Regions from separate parts of the Homo sapiens genome. Here region 2 is linked to region 1. Evidence: fine-mapped expression QTL. A gene starts in region 1. The other region holds a variant in brackets. All regions are shown on one strand. Distances are between the middles of the regions.

Region 1 (8,322 bases):
CAGAGGACAGGGAAGGAATGGTCAGAGTGGCGTCTACGGGTTGTGTAAGATTTGACCAGTTGGTGAAGATGTGAGCAGAGGTGTGGAGTGGAGAGCCTAACATCACTTAGTGTTCACAAAGTCCTCTGCTATTCATTATTTTATCTGTGTGTCTCATCATCCTGCAGACTATCAGTCCTATTTTACAGAGGGGTAATTTAAATCATGGGTACATAGCCAAGAAGTGGCAGACCTGGGGCAGGATCCCAGGTCTCCTAACCCCCAAGTGAGGGCATTTCACACTCCATAGCACAGCAGGGCTGAACTGGGCTGAAGCAGATTAGAGGTGGTTTGGCAGGGTGTAGGGGGTGGTCAGAGCTCAGGAGTCCCTTTTCTGAGTGTCAGGGATGCTAAGACAAGGGAGGACAGCCCTGTAGCCCACCTGGGCATCACTGTTATTACAGGCTCAGCAGCACCTAAGGGAGAGGAGAACAAGACGGGAAGGGAAAGGCAGGGCTGTAGTTAACACACATCCTCCATCCCACCAGCCCTTCAGGCCTGGTCTTGCAGGCACTGGAGCTGGTTCCATGGGTTGCCAGAGGAAGCCTGAGAGAGGGAGGCTGGGAGAGGGGGCGGGGAACCTGATCCTGTGTATATGTCAATACCCAACAAAAACTTGTGTAGGGGGGTGGGGTGCATTTGGGTTACTGGAGTTACACAGACATGTGTGTACATGGATTGTGTGAAGGGGCTGCTCAAGTGCCGTGTGTGCACCATGTATGTGGGTGCACATACGCCTGTGTATATAGCGAGTCAGTGGGCTTGTGTCTCCTGGGTATTGTGCCAGGCATGTGGGTGAAGGCGCTGGAGTTCCTATGTGGCTTCGCTCAGCACCAGGATTGCAGACGGGTAGGGGCGGGCCTGCTCTGGGAGGAGGAGGGGAGGAATCATGTGCCCACCCACCCCCACATGGACCGGCTGCCCACCCTCCAACGTGGCAGCACGCAGGACAGCCCTTTTTGGATGGAAGGCCCCACGCTCCAAGAGAGAGAATCCAAGATTACAGAAATCGTGTTTTCCTGACTCATGCCTTGGGCTGAGAGCACATTCTTGGCTCCTGGACAGCATCTCAAAGAAGAGCTGCCTATAGCAGCCCTGGCTCCCTGAGGGAGGGGGCCGACCCTGGACTGGCTGTCGGAGCTTTCTGGGCTCCAATTTTATACCAATGTAAAAAGAAGGGGATTAAACTTCCTTCCGATTAACGTTCTATAATTAAAAGTGAGACACTAATGACGGTGCCCAGCACAGGCCTGGCAGCGGCAAAATGGCCCATAAATGTCACTTCCTTCTCGTCCACTCCCTGCCTTCCCGTGGATATGGCATAAACAGACCTGATTCAAAACCCAGCTCTGACTCTGGCTTGTTGTGTGCCCTTAACCCTGTTGCTTAGTCTCCCTGATCCTCAGTTTCTTCATGCTGAAAATTGGAACATTCTTCCTTACCTGAAAGGAATAAATATGATAATAAATGTGAATGTGTTGCACACTTAAATGACATGCAAGTTTTTGTCCTAGGATTCTATGGGGTGAAGACTGAGTGAATCTAGCCACTGGGGCCAAAGAAAGCTGTTTCCACAGCACCTGGCAGAACTGGGCCTACATACCCCCCTGGGTCATTAGAGGGTACTGTGGGAGAAAGAGGGCTGGGAGTCCAGGGCTTAGGCTCCAGCCCAGCCCCACCTCTGATATGCTGTGTGACCTTGGGTAAATTCCTGCCCTCTCTGGGCTTCCGTTGTCCTCTCTGTATAGTGTGGATGCAGTTGGACTTGATGGTTTTCTACTTTCTGCTGTCCACACCTCTCGGGACCTAGGGATCTAGAGGATTTCCAGCCAGCCTCCACGTGCCAGGCACCAGGACCACTTCCTTCAGTGAAGCGAGGCACTGGAGGAGTCCAGAGACAAAATGCTTGAGAGTTTCTCTGCTTATCAGACTCTTCTCCCCCACCCCCTAAAAGAGTGCTTTTTCCGGAAAGCTCTGCCTGGAATGTGGGGGAAGGGCCACAGTCAGTCTGGGCTGGGCTCAGAGCTAAGAATATTGTGGCAAAGGCTCTTGACTTTTTTTTTTTTTGCTGATCTTGGAAATTTAAAGGAGCCGTTGCTTTCCCTTCTTCAGGGAGGCTGTGCTAGGGGCACAGCAGCCTCAGGCAGCCACTTCTCATCCCCTGGCCAGCCATGCTTACCCAGTGCCTCTTCCATACTGTCCCCTTGCTGGAGCTGGGGACTCACAGTGACAAGGAAAAGGCCCTGCCCTTCCAAAGTCTCCAGTGATGGTTCACTGACAATACAGGGTGATAACAGAGATAATGCAGCAGTGGGATAGGTCACAGAGGAGGCTTCTGACCCGGTGTGAGATTAGTGGGGGTCGGATGGGGGTTGGGCCTTCAGACCCAGCCCTCCTTAGGCCTCAGCTTTGCTGTCTGTAAGGGCAGGTCCTCTCTTCAGTGACCACTCATGATACTGGGTCTATTTAACAGCATGAGCTTTGGTTTATCCCTCAAAATGGGACAGTCACAGCACTCTCAGTCTCCCCCTCAGGTGTTGGTGAAGCCTAAAAGAGCTAAGAGATGTAAGAGAGTAGAGGAAGGGAGTCTCACTGGGATTGTGACATCTGAACCTGCTGAAAACCCAGGCGACCCTCTCTGTTTTGCCAGCATTGATGGGCACTCTTTGTTTCTGCTCTGCCCTGCCCTCAGCTCACTGACCAAGTCACAAGGAAGCCTGAGGGCCAATGTGGGGGTGGGAGTAGAGAGTGGGGTCTGGCCTGGGACCCGGGAGGTCTCCTTGGATAAACAAGAATTTATCTTTTTTTTTTGAGATGGAGTCTCGCTCTGTCACCCATGCTGGAGTGCAGTGGCATGATCTCGGCTCACTGCAAACTCCACCTCCCAGGTTCAAGAGATTCTCCCGCCTCAGCCTCCTGAGTAGCTGGGATTACAGGCACATGACACCACAGCTGGCTAATTTTCATATTTTTATTAGAGATGGGGTTTCACCATTTTGGCCACGCTGATCTTGAACTGCTGACCTCAGGTGATCCACCCACCTCGGCCTTCCAAAGTGCTGGGATTACAGGCATGAGCCACCGCGCCCAGCCTAGAATTTATCTTTAAAAGCAATATACAGTTGAGGCAGGAGGAAGCACATGAGAACCACGACAGCCACCCCAAAGAGATGGACACCATGCCAAGGCTGGAAGCTTTTGTTAATAATCAGACCTGTCCTAAAAAAGAATGCGGGGCTGCCTCTGAAGGAGGTAAGCTCTCTCTTCTTAGAGGTGCCTCGGTGCTTGCCTTTTTGGGATACTGAGAAGAGGGCTTCTGCCTGGGGCTGCAGACAGGAACCCCTGACCTCTGAGATGCCTTGCAGCTCAGAGTCTTTAATACATTTATTCCAGAATCCTTCGACTCTGAGATTTTAACATGTTAAGATTCCTTAGCTGGATTCAAAGACTCCTTGGGGGCTTTGAGTGGAAGTAATCTCTGATTCCTTGACCCTGAATCACAGAGTCTGAAGCTTTTGGGATCTGAGATTTCCCACAGTCCTTGTACTCAAAAGACTCTGAGCTGCAGAAGCCTACCCAGACAGAGAGGTTTGTCACCACCACCAGGCTTCCCCACAACCACTAACAGAGGGCAGGGACCCAGGTGATTGACTCATTTGCTGGGTACTGGGATTTTTTTGCTCCCCAGGATCCAGGCAAGCACCTAGAAGAAAGAAGATACTCAATGCATTCATTCATGACTGAATGAATGAAGAGTCCCTACCCTGTCCCTTCCTCTCCATACTGCGTCCATCCAATAGCTATCATTAAACTACTAAAGAGGACTTTTCGGAGGGTAGGGAGCCTCGGCTGATCAGAAATTGAGCCACTGTCGCCCAGATTATTTAGGGTTTCCTAAATAATCTGCCTCACTGAATCACTGAATTCCCTACTAACAGGTACATACCCCACAGATGGACATCGCACAGGGCAAGGACTTTGTTCAGCTCTCAGCTGTGTCCTCAGCACCTAGAACAGTAATGAATACCCTAGCTTAACTTGGAGGTCAAGGAGCTATCAGTTTGCGAGGGTGGGGTAGGAATTGACAGTGAGACCTGAGGCCTGTGGGAGGGGACCCAAAGAGGGAGGGGATGCAATAGGGAGGGGGCCAGGGGTGACAAGGATTGAGGAAGGGAGAGAGGGGGGAAAAAAAGCAAGGGATGCCTTAGAACCACATTTCACAGCCAAGGGAACAGAGGCCCAGAAAGGGAAAGTAACCTGCTTAGGGTCACACAGCACCTTGCTCAGTGGAGAGCCAGGTTTTCCTTCCTGTGCACTCCTCCAAGCCCAGCCAGACCACCTGAAGTTCCCCAGGCATCTCTGCCTCTATTACTCCACGACTTGAACTTTCCGGGTGCCGGGCAGGTACCGGGTCTGGTCTGCTCCCTCTCCCTCTGGCCATCGCTGAGGTTGAGGTTTTTTGAATGTACAAGTATGGAGAAGGGCACTGCCTTCAGAAGCCTGAACGTCTCCCCTGAGAGGGAGGGGGTGCACAGGACTCAATTGTTTCAGCTTGAAAATGGGGGAGAGCGGGGAGAAGGGGAGATGGCTCTGCTTGGGGCAGAGCCCCTGCGGGGAAAGGGGCGCCTGAAAGGACGTGCGATTCGGAGTGGGCTAGCTTATGCAGAGAGCCTGGGGGTGGGAGGAAGCTCGCACTCTGAAGGACACGCTGATCCCCGTGGGGACTCCCGGCGCCCCGCAGCCCGGGCCGCCGAGGGAGGCAGTAGGACCCAGGGGCCGGGAGGCGCCGGCAGAGGGAGGGGCCGGGGGCCGGGGAGGTTTTGAGGGAGGTCTTTGGCTTTTTTTGGCGGAGCTGGGGCGCCCTCCGGAAGCGTTTCCAACTTTCCAGAAGTTTCTCGGGACGGGCAGGAGGGGGTGGGGACTGCCATATATAGATCCCGGGAGCAGGGGAGCGGGCTAAGAGTAGAATCGTGTCGCGGCTCGAGAGCGAGAGTCACGTCCCGGCGCTAGCCCAGCCCGACCCAGGTGAGGGGCGGGAGACGCCTGCGTGCGTGCGGCCCGGGGGAGCGCCGAGCAATCTGGGGGTGCGCGAGGGAGTAAGAGGGGCGAGGGGACCCTGCGAAGCGTTGGGTGCCGAGCCAGAGCCTACAAATTGGAGTCCTCGGCACTTTGGGGGCCGCTGGAGGGTTTGGAATCGAGAGCCCAGGGCTAGCCAGTGATGGTGCCAGCTGAGGGCTAGGGCGGAGATCGGAGCCGGGTTGGGAGTCCGTGCACTCGGAGGACTGGGAAAAAGTGCAGGGACCCCTAAAAGGTGGTGGTGGCAGATACGAGACTAGGTGCTGTGTAAAGGGGGCTGGGGGCAGAGAGCAGAGCCTCTGCGGAAAGAAACAGAGGAGGAAGGAGATGGGTCTGGTGCCTCTTCCCGCAAGGGTAGGGAGGATAGGCCGGCCTCGCAGTTCCAGGTCACTTCCGTTCTGGGGTTGAGGCTCAGGGGCAGCGGTGATTGGTGGCCCAGCCTCCTCACAGGCTTGCTGAGGGAATTTGAGCTTCCGGTGGTGGGAAAGGAGGTGAAATCGTCTCGACTCCTGGGGTCCGTGTGCTCTGGTAGAAGTGGGCGACAGTGGCTCAATTTCTGATCAGCAGCTTGCAGCCTAGATGATGGCAGCCAAAGGAAAGACTTGGCCAGCGAGGCTCCCTACCACTCCGAAAAAAGAGAGTGGGGGTCAGCAGGGTCTGCTCTGCTCTGGGGATTAAGGGGCTGACTAGAAGGATTTGAGTCTTTCCTTCTGTCCACTGCCACAGGGTTCTTGGAGTAACTGCAGGGTTTAAACTGCAGGGTCTAACTTCCAGAGGCTGGGGTTCCCTGCCCCCCAGCTTAGAGACATTCCTGAGGTGGCTGAAGAGCAGGAAGGAGAATGAATGCACTTCCAGACTGGCCCAGAGTCTCAGCCCCTCCTCTTCCTTGTTTCCCGCTGGTCCCTCTGGGCTGTACGGCCCGGATGGAGGCCTGAGGAAAATGAGGGGGCTTTGGTTCTCCGGAATTCCGGCCGGGGCCACACCCTCCTGTCTTCAGATGGTTCATGTACCCATCCCCCCTTCCCGTCCTCTCCTTTGTCTCCTCTGTCACCGGGACTCCCAGCAGAGATTTTTTTTTTGTACTGGCTGTGTAACAGGACACCGCATGCAGCCCTCAGGAGGGGCTCTGTGCTTCTGTGAGGAAGGACCCCTGTGCTGGGAAGGCAGACCCCTGTTTATCCCGAGGGACCTGGGGTGACCCCCTGCCCTGGCCTTGTTTCTCCCATTTTACAGTGAGGTGGTCGATCTCCAAGGTCCCTGTAGATTGGGGACTGGTTGTGCCCTCTGCGCCAGGGGCCTCCTCACCATCTCTCCTTTGCCGGCTCCCGCCCTCTTCACTCTTCTGTTTTCTTTCAGAATGAAAAAGGCAGGCATTGACCTCCCTCTGAGGCAGTTTCCAGGTACTTTAGACCTCTCAAGTGTTTGGGACCCTCTGGTGGGGTCCCATCATCTCCTCCCCTTCCCTTCCAGACCCTGCTCAGTCCAGCTAGCTGTGGGCACAGCCCTGGCTAGGTGATCTTGTATTTTCTTTGTGGGACTGTAACTCAGCTAACCTTGGCCTGAGGGCTGGCATTTCTCTGTGGCAAGATGGGCTGGGCTGTGGGAGGCTGGCCTGCTTGCAGTAACTTGCCTTCCCCCATTCCTGCTGCTGGGTTCAGTGGGGCTGCCCTTCTCCCCAGTAGCGCATTTCCCTTCAGAGATTCATGTGCGGATGGGAAGGGAACTAAGGCCAAGAAGGCTCCTGGAGTCCCCTGGCAAATATGTGGCACCCCCTGGGACCTGAGTCAGGCCTGCTTCCCAGGCTGGAAGCCCCCCTCTGCCGGCCGGTGGAGATAGTTCAGCCTCCTGCCTGCCACGTCACCACCAGGAGCAGGCGCTAAGCTGCTGCGGGCCTAGCGGGCTGCCTGAGGAATCCCAAACCAGTTATTTGGAGCTTGCTTGAGAAGCCCCTCCCAGTCCTTTGAGGTTCTGGCTGGTGGGGGTGGGGGCTGTCAAGATGGTACCTGCCACGTGGCATGGCTGGGAGTGGGCTCTTCAGCTGCCTCCTCAGGGAAGGAAGGCTGTTGGCCTCTGCTGTGGTCTGAGCTCCAGCATCACTGGTCTGGATCAGAGGTGGCTTTTGAGTAGGGTGGCCATATGCCTATTGTCCTGGCATAATAATTAGTAGTGCCCATTTTACTCTTATAAGTGTCCTTGTTTGTGCAATAAATTATATGGTTGCTCTGCCTTTGAGGCTCCAGTTCTGGCAGGGAAGGAGCCAGAGCTGGGAGGGAGGTGTCTTGGGGTTTATTCTAGGCCCCAAGATATCCCCTTCATTTTAGGGTGAGACTCAGATCTCCCCGCTCCTTCCAGACATTTTTAGATCTCTGGGCCTTCCCTCCTCTCCCCACCTCCCTCCCCTTGGACCCTTTGCTTATCTTATACTGCACCTTCAAGGCTCCGAGGAGGGAGGCAGTCCCGGGAGATGGGGAGCCTGTCCAGGTTTTTGGGATGGCAGCAGTAGAATCTTCCCAGAAATACAGTGGTCCCCAGGCAGCCAGAGTCCTGAGGGTCTTCCACCAGGATTTCAAATGTTCGGTCTTCTTCAAGGATGACTACAAGTTGGGATCTACCAGAGCAGTGGGATCGCAGCCTCCACCAGGATTCCTTCTATCCTTCCCTTTGCCCTGTCATCTCTCCTGTGCTGTTGCATGATGTAGAGGAGGATAATGGCCCGAAGGGAGAGAGGGAGTGTGGAAGTATCCCAGGAACAGAGACTGTCCAAATTGGAGGCCCCAGAGAGGGAACTGGGGCTTGTCCTTGGGGCCACTGCTACTGCTGGGGCTTGGGGAGGAGGCCTGAGGGCAACCCTGAAGCCGTGGAGCAGATGGCCTGTGTGGCAGTGGCTGTCAGATTGGAGGGCAGAATGGAATCTGATGTGGCTCCAGCTTCTTTGAAGGCTGAGTGCACATCTGGCCAGCTGCTGGTGATGGGGAAGGGGGTCACTGCTCTATTGAGCTATGTGTGACTCACCCTTTTCCCTAGTATCCTGTCCTTGTGCTATGTCAGGAAGCCTCCTCCCCAGCCCCACCGAGTCTTCAAAGGAGTTGGTCCCCCAGGAGCTTTTGTCCTGGGGATTTCCCATCCGCACTGGGAGCACTGTGGGTAGATGGGCATTCCAAGTTCCTGCCCAGACAGAAGCCATGGGCATGGAGACCTGGACCTTTC
Region 2 (8,322 bases), 25 kb after region 1:
TTTGATGGATGAGGGATGGAGTGGCTTCCCTCCGGGAATGAAGGTGTGCAGAAAGGGCCACGCGCCTGCGGGCTGGGTTGCAGGGCCTCTGAGGGATGGGCTCAGATGTGGAAGCTATAGGAATGCCTGGGCAAACTGGGCAGAAATACCACAACCTGGGCAGGCTTTGGGAGGTCCCCAGCCAAGCCCTAGGGAGAGGGAGAGGGGCTGCCAGCCCCCCGGCTTGGGCTCAGGGAAGCCATAGTGATTCTTCTCAGGATGGCCTGAACCTCCTGGAATTGTGATAAGCCCCAAAGACAGGATGAGGCTCCAGGAAAATGACTAATATCAGATTTCCTGTCAACCGTGGCAACGAGAGAAGGGGGCTCCCAGTCTATTTAATTAGATTTACCAAAATAAAGACGTGGCATTTCTTACACCTGAGTGCCATGCTGTGATGCATAGACTGAATTACAAATTGTGAGATGGGTGAGGTAAGAGGGGGTGGCCATAGAGATAGTGAAAAGTGGGCAAATTTGCTATTTAGCAGGAAGGCCAGGCAGGTCTTACTGATAGTTTGGAAGCTGAGGGTCGGAGACTGGTACTGAAAAGGATTTCCCGGTTTCTGGCTGAGAACTGGGTCAACCCGAGTGCATTCCCACCCACTTCCTCTAGACCATCCATCCACTCAGCGGCACAGACTCCCGAAAGTGTCGCTCCAGTCCGAGTTGGCTCCTGTCCCTTGTCCACATAGACCGTCTCCCCGCTCCCCCAATATGGCACAAGGTGCCTAGGCCGTGTGGGGCGTCGGCAGGTATCACGGGTGGGGTCCATTGTGTGAGGACTAACATCGCGGCCTTTCCCCAGACCAGCCACCGGGGACTCCAGAGAGGCCTCGGCCCAGCTCCCGGAAAGGGTCTCCCAGCCAGGCCTTCTAGCGGCCCAAAGCGGGTAGGCAGAGCGCAGATACCGGGGCCTCTTTCGCCCACCCTCGCCAGGGCACTATCCTTCCCACCGGCCCGATCCCGCGTCCCGAGGTCTCGCGGGGCCAGGCTGCACGGGCGGCGGAGCCCGGAGCCCGGGGCGGGGCCGGAGATGAGCCTGCAGGCGGGGGGCTGTGCGAGTGCGCGGGGACGGGGGCTGCTGTTTCCGAGCCGAGAGCCCTGGTAGCGGGGCTCTGTGGGCGGAGACGCCCTCCCGAGCCTGGGCATCTTCGGAGTGGGACTCTCGGGTCGGAGTTCCGCCGCCGGCCCATCCAGTTTCAGCGGGTCGCCTTTGCCTCTGGGCCGGGTGGGGAGCCTCCCATTCCAGAGACCCCCCGACTCCCTGCCCCTCGCGGCGTAGGGGCGCCCTTTCTGCGGCGCCGCGGGGCCGTCCTCTCCCCTCCCCGGGCGGCTGCAGCAGGGGCGCGGGAGCCCGCGGACTGCGGGGTTGCGGTCGCCCCTGCTTTGTGAGTTCCCGCAGCTGGGAGGAAGAAGGAGAGGAGGGAGGAGGGAGAGGTGGGGAAGGGGACGCCGCGGGAGACTGGGAAGTGGCTGCCGCAGGGAGGAGCTAGGCCTCGAGTGAAGCCTGCTTGTAAGAAGGGCCAGGAGAGTCGGGTGCGCCCCCGCCCTCCCTGCCCCACCCCAAGATGGGGACCCAGAGCCCCTCCTCCCGCACTGGGCCTTCTTTCTGGGTAGTGGAGGGCTGGACTGGACTGAGCTGGGAAGGCCTGCAGCTCAGAGGCGCTGCTCTGTGCGTCAGGACCGGCTTGCAAATGAAGATGTTGAGGGGCTGGCTCTGGGCTCATAGCAGAAACTGCCAGATCTAGCGGCCACCCCTCAGTCCTCATCTGCGCCGGCCCTCCCAGCTTTCGACCCGGCCTCACTGTCTCCTGATTGAATCACTCCGGGCACCACAGTTCCCTGGTTCCTCCTTACAGCTCCGGGCCAGCCCCTCTGAACTTTTTCTGGGCGATTCTCTCTGACCTCTTAAGTCCGCAACGCTTGGAACAGGACCCACATCTCTTTCCATTCTGACACTCTCTGAGGGAGCGCAGCGTCCTTCATGTGGGGCTTGTGACCATCCTCCCCCCAGCCCCAGGGCAGCTGACTACCAGGCCCTGTTTCCAGACGTCTCTTCAGAGGTCAAGCCTTGGTAGCCAGTGGCCTGGACATCTGCCCCCGGGTGTCTCGGAGGCCCTCAGGGAAACCTTGTTCTGCTTCTCAGAGATGGCGCCACGGTTCGCTTGGCCTGTGGAAACGTGTGTGTCATGGGACCTGGTGTGTGGGTCAGAGGAAGGACTGGGAGGAGGAGGAAGGTGTCCACATGCGATTTTTTTTTTTGAGACAGAGTCTCGCTCTATCGCCCGGGCTGGAGTGCAGTGGCTAGATCTCAGCTCACTGCAATCTCTGCCTCCCAGGTTCAAGCGATTCTCGTGCCTTAGCCTCCCAAGTAGCTGGGATTACAGGTGCCTGCCACTACACCCAGCTAATTTTGGTATATTTAGTAGAGACAGGGTTTCACCATGTTGGTCAGGCTGCTCTTGAACTCCTGACCTCAAATAATCCACCCACCTCGGCCTCCCAAAGTCCTGGGATTACAGCCGTGAGCCATCGAGCCCGACCTTCACACGCAATTCTTTAGCCTCAATGTGGCCTTGTCTTATCTTCAGGTTTCTGACTATTGGAGCTCATATGGCAGCAAGCTCTGAGGGCTACTTTTGTGTTGGGCCAAAAAAAGCCAACCTCACTGTGAAGAAACGTCTCTCTCTCTCTTTCTCTGTGTGTGTGTGTGTGTGTGTTTGTGTGTGTATAGACAAAACCCTAGTGCTGTTGGGAACGGGGTGAGGAGGCAGGCTTGGGGCCAGTTGGATGGGGAAGGCTTGCTTAGAAAACTAGACTATTTGGGTGTCCTCCATACTGTATTTCCTCTGATGATTTTCCTGTAAGAACTGAGCTGAGCTCCTTTGAAAGGGATAGCAGTATTCCTTGGGAGCCAGCTTTGGTGGGGGCAACTGGTGGAGCCTCCACCCTAGCTTCTTGGGGGCTCTGGGCTTTGAAAGGGAGGCTGTAATATGGCCTTGCGGCCCCTGCCAGTGGCATCCCGGCCGGACCCATCTTTGACTGAGGCTGAGCCCCAGGCCCGCTGGCAGCTCCCAGCCGTCCTCCCCACAGCCTGGCTGTGGCTGTTCCTCGGCCTGCCAGCCCCACAATCACAGCCCACAGGACGCACCCCCACTCCCTCCCTGATTTCCTGGAATTCAGAAAATGGATCACCCCTGCCTCGTCCTAGTTTTCCACCCCAGAGACCTGCCATACCCTTGGTCAAGTCCTCATGCAAACCAGATTCCTTTCATTCAAGGACTTTCAGAGGGAGCGTTACCCGGTCCTCAGCCACACCCATGCCGCCCTGTCTGCCCTGTCTGGACTGCCTAGACTCCATCAGAACTCCACAGCCACTTTCTCTGGAAAGCCTTCCTGGCTGCTCTTGCCAGGTGTTCTCTCTTCACTGGCCTCTCAAAGCCAGGTCTTGACTTGTCCTAGGGCCTCATCCCATACCATGTTTTATTGTCATAATATTCTTTCCCATAGTGACCCCAGTGCTCAGCACTGAGCCTGGCACAAAGTGCATGCTAAGGACAAGCTTGCTGCACGGAGAAATGAATGGGGACTTCAGATATACATACACACACACACACATATATATATACACGTATATATATATATATATATATATATACGTGTATATATATATATACGTGTATATATATATATACACACACACATACATACATACACATACACACGCTTTTTTTTTTTGAGACCGAGTCTCGCTCTGTCGCCCAGGCTGGAGCCAGGCTAGAGTGCAGTGGCACAATCTC[G/A]GCTCATTGCAACCTCTGCCTCCCAGGTTCAAGTGATTCTCCTGCCTCAGCCTCCTGAGTAGCTGGGTTTACAGGTGCCTGCCACCGCACCCAGCTAATTTTTTTATTTTTAGTAGAGACAGGGTTTTTACCATGTTGGCCAGGCTGGTCTCGAACTCCTGACCTCAGGTGATCCACCCACCTAAGCCTCCCGAAGTGCTGGGATTACAGGCGTGAGCCACTGTGCCTGGCTCTAGGTATATTCTTTAGAAGCTCTCAGTTGAGCTGTCATGGATATTGAATGAGGATTAGCAGGTGTTAGGTTATACAGTGTCCTGAGACTTATGATCAGAGCCTGGTTTCCTCAAGAAGTTTGACCCCTGGATGAGCTTTAAGGCTGAGCTCTTGGCAAACAACTGTCATCCAGAATTCCCCTGTGCCAGGTGGGTCCCTGCTCCTGTTTCATCTGCAGGCTTCAACTCAGCTACCCAGGGCTCAGCCTGCTGGGATTTGGCACCTCTTGTGAGGCTGTCATGGTATCTGACCCTTGCCTTATCCTGCCCACCTCCGTGATGGGGTCCTGTTTCCATCTAGCATCGCCTACCCACTCCCATCTCATGCTGACAACTCACAGGAACTGGTGCTTCTCAGACCCCTCTGGTCCAGACGGGTGAATGCAGAGCCTGACAGGCCCACCTATACACATGTATGCACCCCTGCCCAACAGAGACAGAGAGAAACATTGCTGAGCCAGAGGGACCATTTTTATTAGATTCCAGCAAGACTACTGTACATGTTTCATGCAGATTAAATATGTGTCTTCACTGCCCCTGGGAGGGGAGCACTCTCACTGTCAGCTCCTTCATTGGTGTGTCAAGGGGTGAGTGTCAAGGGGAGCTCTCAATGTATTCCGTATGGGGGGCAGTTGGGATCATGACTCGGGGTAGAGGTGAGACAGTAGGTAGCTGAGGGTCCCTGGGACCTTGAGTCTTCAGAGGTTCAGGGACTGCAGGACCTTGGTCCTTTGCTGGTACTGGCACCAGAGGATCTTGATCCTTCAGAGGCACTGGGACTATAGGAACTTGATTCTTCAGAGGTTCAGGGACTATACGACCTTGATTCTTTGGAGGCTGTAGGACTGTGGGGCCTTGATCCTTAACTAGTACTGGGAGAATGGGGTCTTGATTCTTCACGGACTCGGGGACCACAGGACCTTGATTCTTTACAGGTGCCACAACTGCAGAATCGTGAACCTTTGCATGCTCTGGGACTACAACATCTTGATCCTTGACTGGCCCTGAGACCACTAAACCTTGATTCTTTACAGGCTCAGAGACCATGGAACCTTGATTCTTTATGGGTGCTGTGGCCATGGCACTTTCATCCTTCGGATGCTCTGGGACCATGGGATCTTGATCCTTGATAGGTGCTGAGACCATGGGACCTTCATCCTTGACAGGTGCTGGGACTATGGGACCTTCACCCTTGACAGGTGCTGGGACTATGGGACCTTGATCCTTGACAGGTGCTGAGACCATGGGACCTTGATCCTTGACAGATGCTGAGACCATGGGACCTTCATCCTTGACAGGTGCTGGGACCATAGGAGCTTGATTCTTCACAGGCTCAGGAATCCTAGGACCTTGATCCTTTAGAGACTCTGGTACCACAGAGCCTTGATCCTTAACTTTTGCTGGAACCATAGGACTTTGATTCTTTGGAGGAACTGGGACCGAGGGACCTTGGTCCTTGACTGGTGCTGAGATAACAGGGCTTTCATTCTTTAAAGGCTCAGGGACCGTGTGATCTTGATCCTTGACTGGTAATGGGATCATGGGACCTAGATCCTTTGGAGGCCCTGGGACCACAGAACCTTGCTTCTTCAGAGGCTCTTGCACCATAGGACCTTGACCTTTCAGAAGGCCTGGGACCACAGAACCTTGATCCTTGTCTGGCTCTGTGGCTACAGGACCTTGAGTCTTACTTGAATCACTGACGGGTTGAGCCAGGCTCCTGCAAAGGAGAGAGAGGTGATCACTGTGAGAGTAGAGCTCAGGCAGGGACAGGGCAGAGTACAGATTGCCTAATAAGTCTTGGCCTAGTGGAGCCTGGGCCGGGCAGCTCTTGCTGGAGAGCCAGGAGAATATGATTTCTGTGTTCTTAGTACAGAATGTGGGCGGGGGTGAGGGAGGGGGGTGAGGTGAAGGCTCAGGAATCAGTCATTCAATGTGCTTGCCAATTGATTATAACCTGCACGTGGCACAGGGGGTGGCACGCTGGTGACAATGGCAGTACTGTAGCTGGACTCGGAGTCATCCAGTAGGCATCCCAGCAGCCCGTCCACCCCACATTCCATCCAGGTCCCTACTTTTTCTTCTAGGATCGTTGGGCCCATCCTGGGAGCCCCATCTCAGCTGCCCACCAGATGCCCCCACAGGCCAGGGTGCTCTTTTCTTGTTCTCAGGGCCTTCAAAGTTCTTTTGCCTCCCTGACTCCCTGACCCCCTTGTTAAGTGCTGGCTGCAAGAAGGGGCAAGGGGTCCATGGCATACCAGGAAAGGAAGCAGTGGGAATGCCCCTCTCTCCCTCTCCTGCAAGGGGAAAAGTATTTTATCACTGACATTGTATAGAATGAGCAGCATATAGTGATAATAAAAAGCAGGCCAGCTATTAGTTTTTTGTTATTTGTTTTTGTAGAGACGGGGCCTCACTATGTCACCTAGGCTGTTCTCCAGCTCCTGACCTCAAGTGATCCTCCCACCTCAGCCTCCTGAATAGCTGGACTACAGGCAGCTTTTAGCTTTATTGCTTTAAATTCTCCATAGACAGTGCGCCCTGTGATTGCATGCACCACTCCCACTACCCCCAACCTTTGCTAGGTGACTCAATGGGACTCCGCTTTCAGGTAGGGATGAGGCCCTGATCCCCTAACTCCATTCCCACTTCTGGCTCTCTCTGCTCTCCTGAGACCTTTGCCCTCACCAACTTCCAGGCTCTTGGGCTTATTTCCCTATAGCCAAGAGTCCCAGTCTTTCATCAGAATCCTCAGGCACTGTTCCCTCGCCTCACTGTGGCCGTCTGCCTCATCCCCTGGCCCACCCACACTGTGGAGAGCGTGTGACAACACTAACACTCAAAGGCAAGCATTGCCACACTTAGACCCGGCCAGCCTGGAGCCCTCTGGTTTAGAGTGCACACTCCTTCCTTGCAGGCCATGTTGGAAGTCGAGAGAGTGGCATTGCTCAGCAAGCATCACAGGCCCTTGCACGCCTACAACACATCCAGCTTTCCGAATGGCTCCCTTTTATAGCTCATTTCAGCAACAGAGCAGCCCTGTGAAGCACACAGGAAGGATTTTCTTACCCTTACTTGTCTGATGAAGAAAATGAGGTCATGAGAGGACAAGTGATGGGGAAAGTGAGGGGACCCCCACGGACTAGCATCTGGATCCTTCCGCTCCTGGATCCTGTGCTCTTTCCCTTAGTGTGCCTGGCACATAGTAGGTGCTCAATGCAAGGTGACTATTACTATTACTCTATTTATTGGGTATAATGATATTTACTCAGAAATCTATAATGATTAGAGGTCAGCACCTAGAGCACCTTGTACTATGGTATTATTGGGTAGTATTATGGTTGTTTTTCTGTTTACTTAGAAGTAAAATTATGTGTATTTGGACTGCTTTTATTCTTCTGTGTTGTCCTGATGCAGAAGCTTTTTACTGTATTTAGCATCCTGAGCCACCCAGGGACTGGTATTTCTCAGCAGAGTCCACACAGCACAGGCAACCTCTCCATCTAGTTCCCCTGGCTGTCCCTGAGCATCACAGTGGAAGGGGCCAGGGCAGCTCTCTGGCTCAGCATGATATGGAACACAGCTGCTCTGGCCAGATAGACACAGTTGGCTGCTATCAGTAGGACCTTAGTGTTTGAGAAGAGAGCCAGGCAAGGCTGTGAGAAGCATGTGGAATCCAAAAATGGCATTAAAATACCTCCAGTCACTGGTGGCTGGTCAGAGAGGAAAAAAGAAAAACCGAATTCAGAACAGAGCCAAGCAGGAAATTGATTAGGTGTATTCTCTTAGATTGTGAAGCGACCTGGGTGGTGTCCTCCCAACAGGGTGAGGAAGCTGAGAAGGGACAAAAGAAAAAAAAGGGAGCTTAACTCCATCTCAGGGGCTTGGGCTGCAGAACCTATCCCAAGGGTAGGACATGGGCCTGGAGTCTCCTGCTGGCCTGGAGGTCACAAAGAAGGCCAGCCCTGCAGCCTGGGCCAGGAAGTACATTTCCTTGGATATCTACAGCATTGGCTCCTGTGCCACCTACCAAATTTCTGTTTAATGGGCTCTTCTGTTTAATGAGCCAGTTGTGAGCTAGCCTCAACTTTGCATGGATACATAACCCCATATTGCTTAGGTTAGAAAACTTTTTTCTTTAGTGGGTATCTTTAATCATGGGAAGGTTATAATTAAGATTAAAATGATGAATTAAATCAAGTCCCCAAT

What was found. PIP is the estimated chance that this variant, and not a neighbour inherited with it, causes the effect.
Region 2: its variant is fine-mapped to the expression of SERPINH1 in whole blood (TOPMed, PIP 0.97).

The regions. Positions count from the first base shown.
Region 1 is chr11:75,557,256-75,565,577 of GRCh38, forward strand. SERPINH1 (serpin family H member 1) reads left to right here and starts at 4,998. Exons shown (of 5, transcript NM_001235.5): 1 at 4,998-5,064. RefSeq lists cis regulatory regions at 989-1,219, 1,692-2,542, enhancers at 1,555-2,096, 4,678-5,217, 5,218-5,758, 5,759-6,297 and silencers at 4,734-4,993, 5,004-5,053.
Region 2 is chr11:75,582,352-75,590,673 of GRCh38, forward strand. MAP6 (microtubule associated protein 6) reads right to left here. Exons shown (of 4, transcript NM_033063.2): 4 at 4,567-5,833. The coding sequence ends at 4,708. It overlaps MAP6-AS1 (MAP6 antisense RNA 1), which reads left to right and starts at 845. Exons shown (of 2, transcript NR_145823.1): 1 at 845-930. RefSeq lists silencers at 863-972, 983-1,132 and an enhancer at 1,879-2,458. The variant G/A (reference allele first, on the strand shown) is at 3,842.